Homo sapiens: one gene and its partner. The main gene of each other region encodes a partner of the protein of the gene in region 2 in a complex. Each region holds a gene or a part of one and is shown on either strand. Other genes may lie near its edges.

Region 1 (9,367 bases), on a different chromosome or scaffold from region 2:
TTTCAAAAATGTACTAAAAAAGTCACAAGTTAATTTCTGTTAAAATATTTTGCTTAGTTTTCGATAACTCCACTGAAATTTTAAAAATAAGAATCTTGAATTATTACATTACCAGAAGATTAAGGGTCAGCATTCAAGAGCACTGTTCAAGATCACCCTATATCACAAGAACTCTAATTACGCAGGCTCTAGCTGTTTACAACCTTAAAGACATTACCAAAAAATAATACATTGTATTAACTACCTTATTTTTTTAATCCAAAACCCCAGGCATTGTATATCAAATGGCCATCCTACAAACAAAAAATTCTTTCAATGACTCTAATATAACTGAATCTGACAAAAACATTCGGGAGACGATGAGAAATCAGTGGTTTGAATAAACTGCACACCTGGAAAAGGAATACACATATAGATATGTACATACGTATACATACGCATATGCATATATATACATATATGTGTATACGCATATACATACGTATGTATATACATGTATATATGTATACACGTATACGTGTGTATATACGTATGCGTATACGTGTATATACGTATTCATATACGTGCGTATATACGTATACGTGTGTATATGCGTATATGTATATGTGTGTATACGTATATGTATACGTGTGTATATATGTATATGTACACGTGTGTATATATGTATACGTACATATGTTAAGGGACAAGTAAGAGACATATTTAATGCTTTCAACTTTCTAAAGCTTTTAGGTCAAGAGTTTTTTTTAACATACAAATGTGAATTTTAAAAACTTGAAAGAAAATCCAATAATATACATAGGAATAAGAATTTTTGAAAACAAGTAGTAATAGCTAAATTTCTGCCAGAAAGGAAAACGTTATACAAAGTGCAGACTAAATTGGGGCCGGGGGGTTGGGGGTGGGGGGGCATGGCAGGACAAAAATCAAAGCTAAAAAGGGAATTCTGGGAGTTATTCAATTCCATTATCTGCCCTCAGGTAAGTAGCCTAAACCTGCCCAGTAAAGGAAAGCCAACTCTTAAGACTTTCAGGGAATAAGAATTCTGAAACCAACATAGCTCAACATTCCACAAAAAATAAAAATAAAAAACAAAAAAATACTGCTTCGAGGACTGTTAAAAGAAGGATGAAACTAAATAATTCAAGACTTCCTACAGCAGGACTCCAGCTCATTCACTTCATTCAGAACCCAATTCAAACAGAGGGTGCGAAGTTATATAATGTCAGGCTTTACATTACACACCCCACTGGTATGTTCAGGCTCACAAAGATGCAACCAAGAACTATATGCGGTTGCAAGCACATATTACAGAAGGTTTTATTTTAATGTTAAGGCTGATGAATCTTGTCCTAAGCAGGTAGGACACCTCACAAGCACTGAGTCTGAAGCAGTGAAGATTTTTTTTTCTTTAGTTTAACAAACTGCTTAATCGTTCATCAAATTACCCCATATATCATGAAGGCCCCAAACATAGTGAAGCTTCACTAGTTTTTCATTTTTAAGATGTATTCAAACATCAAGTAATGCACAACTTGCCAAGAATATTTGAAAATGGTTACTTTTTTAAAATTTAAACTCGTTAGTGCATAACTGCAGGGTTTAATATTACAATCCGAAATCCAATGTTAAGCACTATTCGCAGTGAATCTATATGAATATGAGCATTCTAAGACATAAAATCAACTAGCATTTTACACATTCTCAACATAAAACATCAGATTCCATTTATTTTTTCATCACCATAACCAAAAGCAATCGATTTGGCCAAACTTTTCCACGTGAATTATCTTTGCAAGCAATTTTATTAACCCATGTTAGACCAACAATAATCCCTCCAAAACAAAATAATGCTCTTTTAATTTAAATCATGTTTAATCTTTTATAATGACAACTTTGACAGCAGTCAAATATTTTTAAATAAAATACTTTAAATACTCAAATTGGAAAAAAAAAAAAAAACTTTAAGGCAGGAGACCAACAATTACTGACGCTTAAATCTTTCCAGAGCTAGTCACTGTTCATTTTTACAGCAATAATTGTAATGAAGCCAATTAATACCTACGTAGTCAAAGTTTAATTCAAGTTTTCTGTATCGGTCAAAGGGGCCGGGCTTACTGAAAAGCATTATTTCCATTTAGTTTTCTGATTATATGCAATATAACACCTTATAATTACTTTGAAATAAAAACAAATGTGTAATTACAGATAAAAAGGAATTGATGACTCTGCGAAACCAAGCTACAGACAAAAATTCAGAACAACAAAAAAATCAACTTAAGAATAAAATGTTAGACTTATTTCAAACTTGCGTCTCAACTGCAACAATAAAGCTAGGTGTCAAATGCAAAGCTATGATTTCAGCTAGAAAAGAAAATGTCTAACGGATACAACACCCATAGCACACACTCCAACTTTCACGGTCCCAATTACGAAGAAAGTATTCAAATACCATTGCAATCAGATTTTGGTCAGGAAATATAAACTGATGCATACAGATTGAGACTCCAGCCTTTGTTCAATAGCTTACAGATGGATAACTAAATGTGCTACAGGTTGATAAGCATTTACCAGGCTTATGCATGCTGCTTCCAAGCTTATGAAAGGTATAAGAATTCTATATGCAAATAATCTTGGGTAATTTTTTTTAAACACCACTGAGCTACACACTCCGAAGGAAAGGCTTATTCACGGCTACTATTTATTTCCATGTTTACCTCTACACCCTCCCCCTAACCCCCCCCTTCACTTTCTCCTCCCACCCTGTCCCGCCATCTTGGGCCGATAGGAGCAGCCATTACTTAACTAAATGACAGTGCCAACAACTTTCCACACAAATAAAAAAAGACTACACCCCGAATCCTCCCCAGCCTCCCCTGTCAGACACACAGGAAATGAGGCTCCAGGAAGAGAACACGTTTACAAATAACTACGGTATTTCTATGCCAAAAAGACCCAAAAAGTAAACAAGTCACCTAACTTCAGGTAACACACACTGCAATCGAGATACATGTCAACAGCCCAATGCAAACTCTTCACCGACCTAAACTCCGTGAAACTTCCCCCTTCTGGGAGCGGGGACACAAGAAAGCCTAAAACATTTGGTTAGCAGTAGGCATCACGAACAGCCTGCTTGAAGGAAAAGAATTTTTTTAAACCCGTAGAGGCAAGTTAAGTCCGAAATTTGGGAAAATCTGAACACACTCACGATCCCTTGACCCTAAACAGGCACCTCGAAGATCATCGGCCTACCCTCAAAAAGCTGTAAAATAGCAGGCAGTTGTGTCGACCCAGTTGAGCCCGGCCCCAAAGCGATCCCGTCTCTGTTCCTCCAGCTACAAGAGGAAAAGAGCGATTTCGCAAGGGAGCAAGCAGGGTACCCGGGGGTGGGGGGAGAGCAGAGGCAGGAAATAGTTTCCGGAAGCCCCTCGACCATCGTCCGTGGCCACAATGAGCACAGACCCGGCCGCGGGGCCCGGGGCGAGCGCGGCGCCGGCCAGGGAGACGGTGTCCGCGCTCCGACTCGCAGCTGCCTTACCTTGCCCAGTAGGGCCTTCGTCCTGGCGCCATCTTCATGAAATCTCACGAACCCAAAGAGGCGGCTGTGGAGACAGACACAGTTTACTCGTTAACGCTCAGGGAACGCCACCGACCCGTCCCTGCCCGAGCCCGAGGCCCCAGCGGAGGCGGCGCGAAGAGCGCCAAACCGAGGTGCCCGCCCCGCCGCCGCCAGAGACAAGCCGCGCTCGGTCCTCCCGGGAGAGCGGCTACTGCCCGTCCGGAGCCGACCGGGCGAGTGACGGCGGCCCGTACCTGTCCAGTCCGCCGAGCGCCTCCCTCTCCTCGGCTGTCAGGCTGGGGGACGCCTCCTCGCTCTCGCCGCTCGCTTTTCCCGCCGCCATTTTCTTTTCCTCATCACCGAAAGCGGCGGCGGCAGCGGCGGCGGTAGCGAGCGACACTCCGCAGGATTTCATGGAAACGCAGCGAATTCACAACTCCAACGCCGACACCCCCCCTCGGACCGGGGCCCGCAGTGACGCCCCCAATCTGCGCGCGGGACCAGCACACCAACTTTATCGCCGCCTCCTCCTCCGCCGCGGGCGGCGGCGACGAAAAATCCCAACGCGGCGGCGGTGAAGGCGGCGGCGGCGGCGGCAGGGGCTGCGGAGCCCCCGGGTCGGCAGCGGCGGCTTTCGGCTGTAGGGTCACATCGCGGGGTTGGGCAGGGGGCAGCCACAGGCGGGGACGGCGGGAACGGCCGGAGCGCGCGGGGCTGGGGAGCACTGAGGGGATTCGTTGGAGACACAAACTTCCCCGGCACCAGCACAAAGTTGTTGTAATTGTGTCACACAGCGAACCCCACGCCGCCGCCGTGACCCCCCCTCCCCGCCCGGCTGGCGCCACCAATCGGCGCGGCCCGCACGCCTCACGTGACCTTTGTTGACTCACGTCAGCCGTGGCTCCACTTAACTTGCTAGCTGCCCGAGCCCCGCCCACCGAGGCCGCCACCGAGATGGGAGCGGGACGCAGGCCAATTCTAGCCGGTGGTTGGCTGCTGGGCGCGTCTGTCGGGGGAAGGGTTGTCACCGAGAGGGAGCTTCCTGTTAGGTTGTGCTGGTTAAATACACTGGGGCAGAGAATGGAGGGTCCGGGCCGTGTCACCTCGGGAACCGCGGCGGGCTCTGGAGGGGGAGGGGAGTGGTGGGGAAGGGCGAGGTCCGGCACCGCCCGCGGCGGGCGCGAGCGGCGGGCGAAGACGCCAAGGACGGCATTTGCCTGCCCGCGAGCTCTGGGATGTGCCCAGACCGCGGCTCCGGCCGTCCCGCGCGCGCTCCAGGGGTCCCGGGACCCCACAGGGCCTGGTACAGGTCGCGTAGCCGGGAGGCGGCGCACGGCCCTCGACCTCTGCCCTCCGAAGAAGGCTCAGACTTTTGGCACTGCTGGAAATAATGGCCTCCGCGAGGAGGGCGCTCGGGGAGCGGCTGCCGGTCCCGTGCCCCGCGGTCCGGGTGCCGCCCTAGGCCAGACCTGCGCTGGCAGCCCCGATCACCTCACCCGCGCCGAAAGTGAAGGGGGAAGGGCTCCCCTGACCCCCGCCCATACGCCCCAGGCCGGAGGGAATGAAGAGTCGCCCGCGGGGCCTGGCTTGCCGACCATGGCTCCCCACCGCCAAAGGTCTGTCTGTTGGCGGCACTTTGGGGCCAGATTTTCGTGCTGTGTTTACCCTGTGTCTTATCAGTAGTTCATTACAGTCTTACAAGAAAAAGCAATGAGAAATTGTGAAGCGGGATCTGCAGAATGTTGGGTTCTATTGCCATGATTTCAGTGGAGCCTTCTTACAAAAGTAGGGGCTGCTTGTGGACAGACCTGAGAGAAGACATAATTAAATCATCACAGCTGGTGGCCCAAGAAATCCTTTCTATCCCCCAAAACCTGCAGGTTTGTAACCCCTAGACAACAGTAACATTTTGTTGTTCTGTCTCTCAGGTGCAGGGGAAAGGCTTTAGTCTGACTTTTAATCTTTACTATAGGTGAAAAAAAAATAGGCCTTTCGACTACTCTTCTCAAAAGGCAAATTTATTTACTAAGCTGTATGTCTTATAACAGGGATAGGAAAAAATTGATAGACATATAAGGACAAGATTCTGTTTATAAACGGAGTTTTTTATATTTTCAATAGGTTTTCCACCTGTAACCAATAAAAATTATATATTTAAACTTGGATTTCAAAATATGACGAAGACAATTCAGTGCTGACCCAGTAATTCCTACCAGTATTCAGCGGGAAGCTATGGGAATCCCAACTGATTTTGCACACAGTTTTAAATTGTTCCCCTGAGACTAGTAACTAGACGAACAAACTGTAGTTTTGTATAGATTATAGTTCATGTTTAATTACTTCCTCTGAAACACCTTTCCCTTTATGATACTCCATTTTGCTTGAATGAGTGTGTACAAAGGGCCAAATCTTTTCTACGGCTAAATTAATACATTGTTAACTTTGTCACAAATGGTGACATTTAAAGCCAAGGAAATTTTGACCCCAGTAACTCGCTCGCACACTCTCTCATACACACACACACACACACACACATACACACACACTTGCACAAGCACAGATAGACATTTTGCTGGTATTTGACTATCTCCCTGAAGTTAGCAGTTCCTGACTCAGGTCCTTTTCAAGGATTATAAGGCTACTCAATCCCGGCCGGGCTCTGTGGCTCACGCCTGCAAAGGGAGGCCGAGGCGGGCGGATCACGAGGTCAGGAGTTGGAGAGCAGCCTGGCCAATGTGGTGAAACCCCACCTCTACTAAAAATACAAAAAACAAAATTAGTCGAGCATGTGGCGCTCGCCTGTAGTCCCAGCTACTCGGGAGACTGAGGCAGAAGAATCGCTTGAACCCGGGAGGTGGAGGTTGCAGTGAGCCATGATTGCACCTCTGCACTCCAACCTGGGGACAGAGTGAGGCTCTGTCTCAAAAAAAAAAAAAAAAAAAAAGGCAGCCAGGCGCTTTGGCTCACGCCTGTAATCCCAGCACTTTGGGAGGCCGAGGCAGGTGGATCACGAGGTCGGGAGATGGAGACCACGGTGAAACCCCGTCTCTACTAAAAATACAAAAAATTAGCCGGGCGTGGTAGTGGGCGCCTGTAGTCCCAGCTACTCGGGAGGCTGAGGCAGGAGAATGGCGCGGAGCTTGCAGTGAGCCGAGATCGCGCCACTGCACTCCAGCCTGGGTGACAGAGCGAGACTCCGTCTCAGAAAAAAAAGGCTACCCACTCTCCACACCTCAACACTTTTCTTCCCGCTATTACTATGTAATAGCAGAACAGCAAGGAGTGGATGCAATGGGTGGGAGTTGGAGTGAGGCAGACCTGGATTCGAATCCTTGCTCTACACAGGCTGTGCGACCTTGAGAACATTACCTATCCTCTAGGCCAGTGCTCTATGTCTATTACAACTACAAGGATCTATCATCAAGCATGGGACAAATTTCATATGGTAACATAAGTCCTTACATCATACACATGTTACATAGTGTGTTATCTGTCAAATGTATGTAAAATAGATATAGAGCCTATAAGGTTTACATATTTCACTGGAGAGAGAAATAGGGACATACAATAAATGATTTTATAATAAATTTCCATGAAAAGTGAATCTGAAAACCCCACCGGAAGGCAGAGTAGTGCAGCCAAAGGAGCATGAATTGTGGAATCATACAGCTCTAGGTTCAGATCCTACCTTTACCACTTGATAGCTAGGCAGACTTCAACAAGTTAGTCTAATTTGAGCTTCAGTTCTCTCATCTGTGAAAAAGAGAAAATACAGCCACTTTATAACATTATTTTAGATGCCATAAGGTAGGTAAAGTGCCAGACACATAGATTCAAAAATCTCAATAAAATAGGAAGGCTGGAATTTCCAAAATTTTTTCTTGCTTTCACAATCTGGGTTCTAAATTTATTATTACTCTACCCATCACTTCCTCCTTCTCCCTCCACAACCTCACTATAAGCCCAACACATAAGCAGTCCTAAGTACTTTATACTTGAGGCATATAACCCCAGTATTGCTACATCTCTCATTTATTCTAAACTTCGGCCTTATAAGCCGGGTGCGGTGGCTCACGCCTGTAATATCAGCACTTTGGGAGGCTGAGGTGGGCAGATCACCTGAGGTCAGTAGCTCCAGACCAGCCTGGCCAACATGGTGAAACCCTATCTCTACTAAAAAAATGCAAAACTTAGCCAAGCATGGTGGCACATGCCTGTAATCCCAGCTACTTGGGAGGCTCACGCAGGAGAATCGCTTGAACCTGGGAAGCAGAGGTTGCAGTGAGCCAAGATCATGCCATTGTACTCCAGCCTCGGCAACAGAGCAAGACTCCATCTCAGAAAAAAAAAGAAAATAGAACATTCATCCTTATATCACTTAGTACTGATTCTTTTTCATAATTCTAAATACACCAGGAGCTGGGGAAAGTTTAATCTGAATTTAGCAAATTAATACGACTAATATATGTATAGATAAATCAATATTATAAAATTATATAAAATCTAGCTAAGTCAGATTACAGACTAAGTACATAATTTGTAGCAATATTATGTTAATATTTATGTAAGTACCATCAACTAATTAGAGAAGGAACCCATTTAAGTATAGGAAAATAATGTGACTTTCTTTTAAACAACGAAATATTTAACCTGAAGCACTTAGGAATATTTAGTGTGTTTATAATGTTAGTGCCATATAACCTTTACAGATAATAAAAAGTCACATAACAGAGTCATAGTTTATCTAGTCTTATCAATAGAACTATACGTAAATGTTACGATCAAACATAGGTTCAAAAAAATTTACCAGTTCTTCCCATACTTACCACTGTCATAGAGACTATCCAGCTGATGCCAGAACACAAAAATGACAGAAATAGATATATGGTTAGGTTTGAGCAGAGACAGGGAGCCAAGGATAAATGGACTTTCAGTTGTTATGAAAACTTCAGTTGTGAGAATAGAGTTAGGACTGCTAGAAGATGCCTGGACTCCTACCTTCACCAGGCTGTAATGAGGCACCTCACATCCCACCCCCGCCAACACACACACACAACTGCACTAGGCAGCCTGGACTTCCACCCAGCAGTTGTGAGGGGTCAGTACCCATCCCTGCTGAATTAATGTCAGAGTCGTCAAAACTTTCATCACTGCCCAGTGGTATACTACCACCCCCCCCATTGTATCAGTGGAGGGGGAGCAATGTAGGGAACAATAATGAGGGACTCCTATACTGCCCAGCTAGGGTGAATGGAGGCCTCAATCTAGGCCTGGTAGGGAGCGAGAACTCCCATCCCCACAAAGCAGTAACAAGGAGACATTGCACTCATTGTCAACCAAGATTGAGGGGGAAAGCTGGACTTCCACCCACACCTGGCAGTAACAAGAGAATGCCCCCTTTGCCCCCACTAGAGCAATGTCAGAGGAGGCCTGCTAAAATACAAGATTTAAATAAGATCTAGAGTCTTGGCCGGGCGCAGTGGCTCATGCCTGTAATCCCAGCACTTTGGGAGGCGAAGGCGGGTGGATCAGCTGAGGTCAGGAGGTGGAGTCCAGCCTGACCAACATGACAAAACCTCATCTCTACTGAATACAAAAAAAATTAGCTGGGCATGGTGGCACATGCCTATAATCCCAGCTACTTGGGAGGCTGAGGCAGGAGAATTGCTTGAACCCCGGAGGCGGAGGTTGCAGTGAGCCAAGACTGTGCCATTGCACTCCAGCCTGGGCAACAGAGTGAAGCTCTGTCTCAAAAAAAAAAAAAAAAAAAAAAAATCTAGAGTCTCAGAACACTGCCCAAAATATCCA
Region 2 (9,020 bases):
TCCTAACCTCAGGTGATCCACCCGCCTTGGCCTTGCAAAGTGCTGGAATTACAGGTGTGAGCCACAGTGTACAGCCTTAAACATAATTTTTAAAATTTCATGGGGACACGTGCTATTAGAAAAAGTATAAACAATGCAAATATAAAATCAGGAAGAACTGCCTGGGCACAAATAAAGAAAGCACCTGAGGGCTATTACTGACCACAATTCAAATGAGTATTCACAATTTAAATACAGTACTATCCTGGGCAAGGCCAACATTGCTACCATTAAAAAGACACAGGCTGAGCACAGTGGCACACGCCTGTAATCCCAGCATTTTGGGAGGCAAGAGTATCGCTTAAACCCAGGAGGTTGAGACTGGCCTGGGCAACATAGGAAGACCCATTCTCTACCCCAAAAAAAAAAAAAGCCAGGTGAGGTGGTGAACACCTGTAGTCCCACGTGTTCACTCAGGAGACTGAGGTAAGAGGATCGCTTGAGCCTGGGAGGTTGAGGCAGCAGTGAGCCATGATCACACCACTGCACTCCAGCCTGGGTGACAAAGCGAGACTCTATTTTTTTTTTAAATAATAATTTAAAAATAAAAAGACACAGAAAAAGAGCATATCATTAGCCTGGACAGTACCCAGTCTTCCTCAATTCTATTTGTTATTTTAAAACAATACTCAGTTTTCCTCAATTCTTTCCAATATTTTTTTAAATTATGGAAAAACTGAAGAAGTTTCAAAGAAAAACCAAGAGGTAAAGAATAGGATGGAAAAGAGGTAATTTTGAAGAATGGTTTGAAATCAAATGAAGTGTGACATGACTATTAACACTGAAATATCCATGGGGAGGCTTTTGAATGGAGACCCTGAAAAGCTGATGTATCTCTCAATGCCCACAGATGACTCACCAAGAAGAGAGGGCTAACAAAACCCTCAAAGTTTGTTGTTTTACAGAAGAGAGATTTCTTTATTGTGCTGGCAAAAGTTACTGGCATAGGAAAATGAGGGAGGCTGGGTGTGTTGTCATTGACCATCTGTTTTTCTACAGGGTGTTTACTTATCCATGATCACCTGATCATATTAGAATGTCTCTAAAACTTGACTCAGTTACTCAAAGCTTGAATCAATTATCTACCATTTCAAAATTCCGCAGTGCCATCCTGCTCCCACACACTGGTCACTCAGCAACATTCAAATGTCTTAGACCTGGCATCCAGGGCCCCAAGAAAGTACGTCGGCTTCACTTCTCCACAACTCCTCAACAAACCAGCAAATCAGACTTCTCACTATTTCATTACCTAAATATTCCTTACATTTTCCTATGTCCATCATTCCTTTGGTTACTCTCTCCTTAATCCCATTTGTTGCAATCTTACCCTTCCATTTTAATAAATTTTAATTTAATGCCTCTATGTTATCTCAAACACTACCTGTTATGTGTTGACTTGTGCCCCCCAATCCCATCCCTGCCAAATATGTTAGTCTTAACTCTCAGTACCTCAGAATGTGACCTGATTTGGAAACAGAGTCGCTGCAGAGGTAATCAATTAAGATGAAGTTACTCCTACTGGAGTAGGGTGGGACCTACTAGTGACCTTATAAGGGAAATTTGGACACAGAGACATACAGGGAAAACGCCATGTGACAACAGAGGCAAAGATGGAGTGATGCAGCTACAAGCCAAGGAGCACCAAGAATTGATGGAAGGCTCAGCCTCTCAAGTAGGTGCGATTAGATGCACATGCCAGCACGCCTGGCTAATTTTTGTACTTTTAGTAGAGATGGGGTTTTACCATGTTGGCCAGGCTGGTCTCAAACTCCTGAACTCAAGTGATCCACCCACCTTGGCCTCCTAAAGTGTTGGGATTACAGGTATGAGCCAGCTATTTGGGAGGCTGAGGCAGGAGAATCACTTGAACCTGGGAGGCAGAGGTTGCAGTGAGCCAAGTTTGCACCACTGCACTCCAGCCTGGGCAAGGGAGTGAGATGCTGTCTCCAAAAACAAACAAACAAACAAACAAACAAAAAAGAGCAGCTGGGTGCAGTGGCTCACACCTGTAATCCCAGCACTTTGGGAGGCCGAGGCAGGTGGATCACCTAAGGTCAGGAGTTCGAGACCAGCCTGACCAATATGGTCAAACCCCATCTCTACTAAAACTACAAAAAAATTAGCTGGGCGTGGTGGCAGTTGCCTGTAGTCCCAGCTACTCAGGAGGTTGAGACAGGAGAATCACTTGAACCCAGGAGGCGGAGGTTGCAATGAGCCAAGATCTCACCACTGCACTCCAGCCTGGGCAACAGAGTGAGACTCCATCACACACACACACAAAAAAGCAAAAGCAAAAGCAAAAGAAAATGTATATAAATGGGTACTACGGAACTGATATTCAACAGATTCAATATCAGTAAAGGAGCTGATTAATGGGAACTTTTGTTGCCTTTGTGTGTGTGACGGAGGGGGAGGGGTTGCAGCTGGTTAATGCTAAATACAAACTGAAATATCTGTTTAAAGTATGAATGCCCTCTGAATTTGGTGCTCATTAATATTAACTGATATAGTTAATTTATTAACTGATAATGAATATTATAACTGACATAGAATACACAATTCATCACAAAGTAAAGGTATGGTCCTGGCCTTCTGCTTTATAGAGATTGTATATCAAATAAAGCATATGACCAACTCTAGGGCTGCATTCCTCCTTCCATCAAAGCCATAGTATTTCATTTGTGTATACATCTAAATGTAACTCTAGTTATTTACTAATTAACTCAGAATGTTTATTGAGCTCCTAGGCAGCTACTTTATGTCCTTTTTAGAATAAGGTGAGGTAGAAAAAGATCACATTTAAAAAAATAAATGAATATACCAGACATCAAAATAGGCAGACACTGGAGCTGAAGGGAGGGAAGGGGGAAGGCAGAGACAGACACCAGCCCAGTCCTAAAGGAGCACTCACCCAATCTAGTGAGAAGTAAGAGAGTAAACTAGCTCCATATCTCTCCTTTCTCCCCATGCTGATCCTACACTTCACAATCAGGCTTCCTTTCCTAACGTACAGCTTTCATCACATCACTGGCGAAAAACATTTGATGACTTCCCACTACCTAGTCAATCAAGTTCAAACTTCCCAGCTTGGAATAGAAATGGGTATTCAAAGCCTTCCATGATTTGATTATATGGTATGCAGAGATTAGGAAGGCAGGCTTTGAAATTAGACTACCTGGACTCAAATACTTTCTGTATCAATTGTTAGCTCTCTTCTTCATTTTATATGTAAAAAGGGATTAAAAACCAGTGCCTACCTCATCAGGTTGTTGTAAGGATTAAATAAAATGCTACTTATGAAATACTTAGCACATTATCTTGCAAATAGTAAGCATGCAAAAAATGTGAGCCATTGGCCAGGCATATGGCTTGTGCCTATAATCCTAGCAATTTGGGAGACCAAGGCAGGAGATCACTTGAGCCCAGGAATTAAAGACTGCAATGAGTTATAATCACGCCACTGCACTCCAGCCTGGGCAACAGAGTAAGACCCTGGTTCTATTTAAAAACAAAACAAAACAAAACAAAAAAACCCTACCCAAAGAACACTGGGGGGAAAGAAAAGCCACTACTACTATTAATTTTTTTAAGTTTTATTTATTTTAGGTTTTATCTATTATTGTTACTATTGTTCATCTCCATTTCCACCCTTAATTCCAACAACACCCTTATAACAATCCTCTTCTCCAAGCAAAGTGGACTCTTTACCATCTCCTAAATACCCACCTCTGTGTTTATGCTTTCACTCAGCCTGGAAAATACAGCACTGTCTCATCTCCAAGTATTAAGATACTAACTATTCTTGGCAGCTTCGTTCACAGACCACCTCTTTCAGGTACCATTCTCTAGTATCCCAGCTCCATAACACATTACAGACATTCCTCAGCATAGAAACCTTGGCTAGATTCATCTTGGTATCTTGCAGAGTTCTAGCCAGTTTCCAGAATACATGGTAGGGCTCAACAAATGTTTGAGAAAATAATACCTATATTTCCTTTCTCGTCCAACCACTCTCTTAGACAACAGCTCCACAATACAAGTAAAAAGAGTTCTTCTACAGTATTTCATAAAGCTGGCCAGCTAATTTTCTATCACCAATGTGGTAATTTCTAATACAGTACTTAATACATAGTAGATGCCTAAATATTCAAGGAGCTAAGCTGAATTTCACCTCATCTTTTAATTTCATTTATCATTCTATTCATTATGATCAAGTATGGCTCATCCTTAGAAATAGGTTTTAGTATTTACTTGCCCACAAACTCATCTGTCAATTTCTGGCCATCCCCCCCACCATCCCAATATGTCATTTACTGGTTTGGGGGAGACAATATTCAATACCTCAATAAAGTAAGAATCAGAAAATTAAATGTCTGCAGGGCCATAAAAATAAAGAGCAAAGCAAGACAGCAAGGCAGACTATGGAGAACTAGGAAACACATCTCACCTAAAAGTTTCAGCTGGTTACCGCTATAAATGAATATGGGCTTGCTGTTGACAGATCTTCCAATTTTTCAAGGTTAAGTCAGAAACTCAGAGGTCTGTGTACATTTTTAAGACATTAAAAATATTGTGTAAACCAAACAAAATACTTATACAGGTCAAATCCAACCACAGGTTGCCAGTTTGCAACCTCTGCTACAGAAGTTCTCTGCAAAAGTGATGGCGTGAGAAGAGTTCTATCCTAGCAGATAATCTAAGGCAGCCCCTAAAACTAAGTAGCTCCTTGGAAGCATCTCCTGCAACACTCAGCCCAACTCTCACCATTCTGATTGACCTGAAAACCAAATTAATTTGGCAATTTAATTGAGCAAAATGAGCCCCTGCTCTGTACCAGGTGCTGAGGAATCAGAAATGAACAGTAGTGCTAAAGTACAGCTAATATTTATTGAGCATGTTCTAGGTGCCAAGCACTGTTTTACACGTTATGTATATTGACTCATTTAATCCTCACAAAACCCTATGAGATTACTATTATCCTTAAAGACTGAGGCGCAATGAGGTTTTATTTGTCCAAGGTCACACAATCAGCAAGCAGCAGTGCTTAATAAGGACCTGAGACAGACTCCACCAAAAAGAGCTCACAATTTGAAAGCAAGCCCCATTCAATAAATGATGCTGGGATCACTGGTTATACATAGGGAAAAAAAATGAAACTGGACCCGACCTTACACTACACATAAGAATCCATTCCAGATACATTAAAGATCTAACCATTGAAAACAACAGTAGGTATTCCAGAATATAAAGAATAATTGCAGGCTGGGCACAGTAGCTCACACCTGTAATCCCAGCACTTTGTGGACTGCTTGAGCTCAGGAGTTCCAGACTAGCCTGGGCAACATGGCGAAACCCCGCCTCTACAAAAAATGCAAAAAGTAGCAGGGCATGGTGGCGCATGCCTGTGGTCTCAACTGGCATGGGAGGTGGGAGGGTTGCTTGAGCCCAGGAGGTTGAGGCTGCAGTGAGCCGAGATCGCACCACTGCACTCCAGCCTCGGTGACAGAGCGAGACCCTGCCTCAAAACAAAGAATAACTGCAAATCTTAAAGGAAAAGATTGATAAAGTTGATACTAAAATTCAGAACTTTTTAACAAATGACACCTTAAAACAGATGTTTTAAAATAAGCAACAGGCCAGGCGCAGTGGCTCACACCTGTAATCCCAGCACTTTAGGAGGCCAAGACGGGTGGATCACTTGAGGTCAGGAGTTTGAGACCAGCCTGGCCAACATGATGAAACCCCATCCCTACTAAAAACACAAAAATCAGCCAGGTGTGGTGGCACATGCCTGTAGTCCCAGCTACTTGGGAGGCTGAGGCAAGAGAATCACTTGAACCTGGGAGACGGAGGTTACAATGAGCTGAGATGGCACGACTGCACTCCAGCCTGGGCGACAGAGCAAGACTTCATCTCAAAAAAAAAAAAAAAAAAATTAAAATAAGCAAGAAACTGGGAAATGACATCTGTAATATCTACCAACAACAAAGGATTAATAATCAGAATATATAAATAAATCTTTTGTAAAAGACAACCCAATAAAAAAAATGGCAAAACAAGCCCGAGCATTATCTAATCCGTGTAAAGCTGGCACTACCACAGTTACCACACAGTACACTCCAGAACAATAGACCTTGCCATCACTGACTGATATAAATATTCAGGGGTCTGTGTTATGCTGCAGGTACACAGAGCATGGGTAATCCAGCCCAAAGGGCAGAGCCAAGACGTTTATTCATTCTCTATCATCATATAGACATTGGATGGCAAATTAGAGGTTGAACATCCAACACTCAAACACATAGATCAGGGGTTGGCAAATGTTTTTGTAAAGAGTATTTCCAGCTTTGTGAGCTGACACAACACATCTCTGTCACGACTACTCAACTCTGCTATTGGTACCACAAAAGAAGATATGGACAATATATAAATAAATGAGTGTGGCTATGTTCCAATAAAACGTTATTTACAAAAACAGATCGTGGGCCAGATTTGACCTATGGACCACAGTCTGTCGACCTCTGACATAGATAGTTGTGCTTTTTCTACACTATAGGTAGGACACTTCCCATGTTTTCCCCTGTCTTTTATGTCTGCTGACACCTCTGATTTCCTTAACCAAAAACTACACCACACTTGACAGCTTTGCAATGGTTTCCAAAACTCTATTACTCTGCCAAAAAAACCTTTTCGCCCTTATTATCAATGAGAATTCTCCCCTCATTTTCCTTTCACTTTTTTTTTTTTTTTTGAGACGGAGTCACGCTCTGTTGCCTGGGCTGGAGTGCAGTGGTGCGATCTCGGCTCACTGCAAGCTCCGCCTCCCGGGTTCACACCATTCTCCTGCCTCAGCCTCCCGAGTAGCTGCGACTACAGGCGCCCGCCACCACGCCCGGCTAATTTTTTGTATTTTTAGTAGAGATGGGGTTTCACCATGTTAGCCAGGATGGTCTCGATCTCCTGACCTCGTGATCCGCCCGCCTCGGCCTCCCAAAGTGCTGGGATTACAGGCGTGAGCCAACACGCCCAGACTTCCTTTCACTTTTTTAAACCTCTTTGACAGACACCACCCCAAACCAGAAATTTAAAAAACTCCCCCTAAGCCACTCACAATGTCAATAATCAACACCTGCAAATTCTAACTCCACTCAATGCCCACAGCCTCTGCCTTAGTTCAGATCCTCATTACTTCTAACTCTGCTCAGTGCCCACAGTCTCTGCCTTAGTTCAGATCCTCATTACTTCTAACTCTGCTCAGTGCCCACAGTCTCTGCCTTAGTTCAGATCCTCATTACCTCTCTGGTCTTCAGTCTACCCTCCTTCCAAAGAACATCCATTTATCTCCTAGAAATTAAACCTCCACCACATACTCCCCTTCTCGAAGATCTTGAATGCCTCTCTCAGCTAAGGATTCAGTCCAAACTCCTTAGCAAGGTCCTTCACAACCAGGTTCCTAACATGGTCTTCCTAGTCTCATCTCTGGCCATGCTTTCACACACATTCTATGCTCCAGCCACATTCAGTTATTAATACATTCCCTGAAAACGTGTCTTTACCTGAAAGGCCCTTCTCTCCATTTCACTGGCAAATTCCTGTATCTTTTAGGACACATCTCAAATGTCACCCCTTCGCAACACCTTCCCTGATTCTTTGAGCAGACACACCCATCTCCGTGTCCTTATAGCGTTTAATAACTCTTCTTTGGCATCGACCATCCTGAACTATGATTGTTCACATGTCTACTTCACTCATGGGGCTGCATACCCAAAGTGAAGTGACTCTGCCTTAAAAACTTCTGAAGCTACAGAGCCCAGTATAATGCTTGATATGCAGTAGATGCCTTGAGGCACAGTAAACGTTTGCTGAATGGAAGACATGCCTGGCAGTAGGAGTAGGGTTTCTTAACCTGGGGTTCATAGACAGGAGTCTATAGATAGGACTTCAGTGGGGCTTGTGAACTTGGACAGGGAGAAAAAAATCTCTTTTACTAACTTTTAACTGAAAATTACCATTCTATTCAAATATGAGTGTAGGTAACATACCATTCTAGTATTAGCAGTTCTGTGACTCTGTAACAACAGAAATCTCAAATATCTTTATATCATACTACAATTGTTGCATATAATCTTGAAGTAGCCTTTATGCGCATCATGTCTTTGAAATTATAATTATCGGATCCATCACTAAATCTGATTTCTTAACGTGCTGATAAACAAGTATATGCATATTAGATTTGTATATTTTGGAAACTGTATTTTAATATAATTGGTGTTCCTTATAATTCAATGTACTTTATTTTATACAATTAAAAAATATTATTCTGAAAGGGGTCCATGGCACAGATAAGGTCAGGTCTTCCTGCATTAGAAAAACCCAGAATAGGCTGGGCGCGGTGGCTCACGCCTGTAATCCCAGCACTTTGGGAGGCTCAGGTGGGCAGATCACTTGAGCTCAGGATTTCAAGACCAGCCTGGGCAACATGTTGAAACCCCAACTCTACAAACAGAAAAAAAAGAAAAGAAAAGAAAAGAAAAACCCAGAACAAATGAATTGTGTTGCTGTATATACATATGGTATTGACAGTTTTATTTTATATATGCCCGCATAATATTTTTGTTCGCTAATTCTCTTTGATTATATGGGGCCCTGGACCTATTTTCCATGACTAATTTGCATATTTCCTTCAGAACTCTCCCATAGCCCATGCGAACTTTGAATTCTTCTCTAACATGATCCAACTTCAATTAATAAAATAGAGACTCTGGGTGTCTACAATTTTTCACTTTTCTTTTTTAGGATTTTGTGTTCCTTTGTGGTAAACACCTAGAAGAGAAGGAGCATCTCTCTTTTTTTTTTTTCTTTAGACAGTGTCTTGCTCTGTCGCCCAGGCAGGAATGTCATGGAATGACCATAGCATGGCTCATTGCAGCCTTGACCTCCCAGGCTCAAGCGATCCTCCCACCTCAGCCTCCTGAGTAGCT

Evidence for each region.
Region 1: NCOA6 (region 2) and KDM6A share a complex: the UniProt entries of both Homo sapiens proteins name them as parts of the MLL2/3 complex.

The regions. Positions count from the first base shown.
Region 1 is NC_000023.11:44,868,159-44,877,525, reverse strand, and holds the start of KDM6A (lysine-specific demethylase 6A), read right to left. Parts: upstream 4,339-9,367; 5' UTR 3,975-4,338; coding exon 3,814-3,974; intron 3,603-3,813; coding exon 3,539-3,602; intron 3,351-3,538; exon of another isoform or gene 3,253-3,350; intron 1-3,252. UniProt on the Homo sapiens protein: Histone demethylase that specifically demethylates 'Lys-27' of histone H3, thereby playing a central role in histone code. Demethylates trimethylated and dimethylated but not monomethylated H3 'Lys-27'.
Region 2 is NC_000020.11:34,814,816-34,823,835, forward strand, and holds part of NCOA6 (nuclear receptor coactivator 6), read right to left. Parts: intron 6,825-9,020; exon of another isoform or gene 4,487-6,824; intron 1-4,486. UniProt on the Homo sapiens protein: Nuclear receptor coactivator that directly binds nuclear receptors and stimulates the transcriptional activities in a hormone-dependent fashion. Coactivates expression in an agonist- and AF2-dependent manner.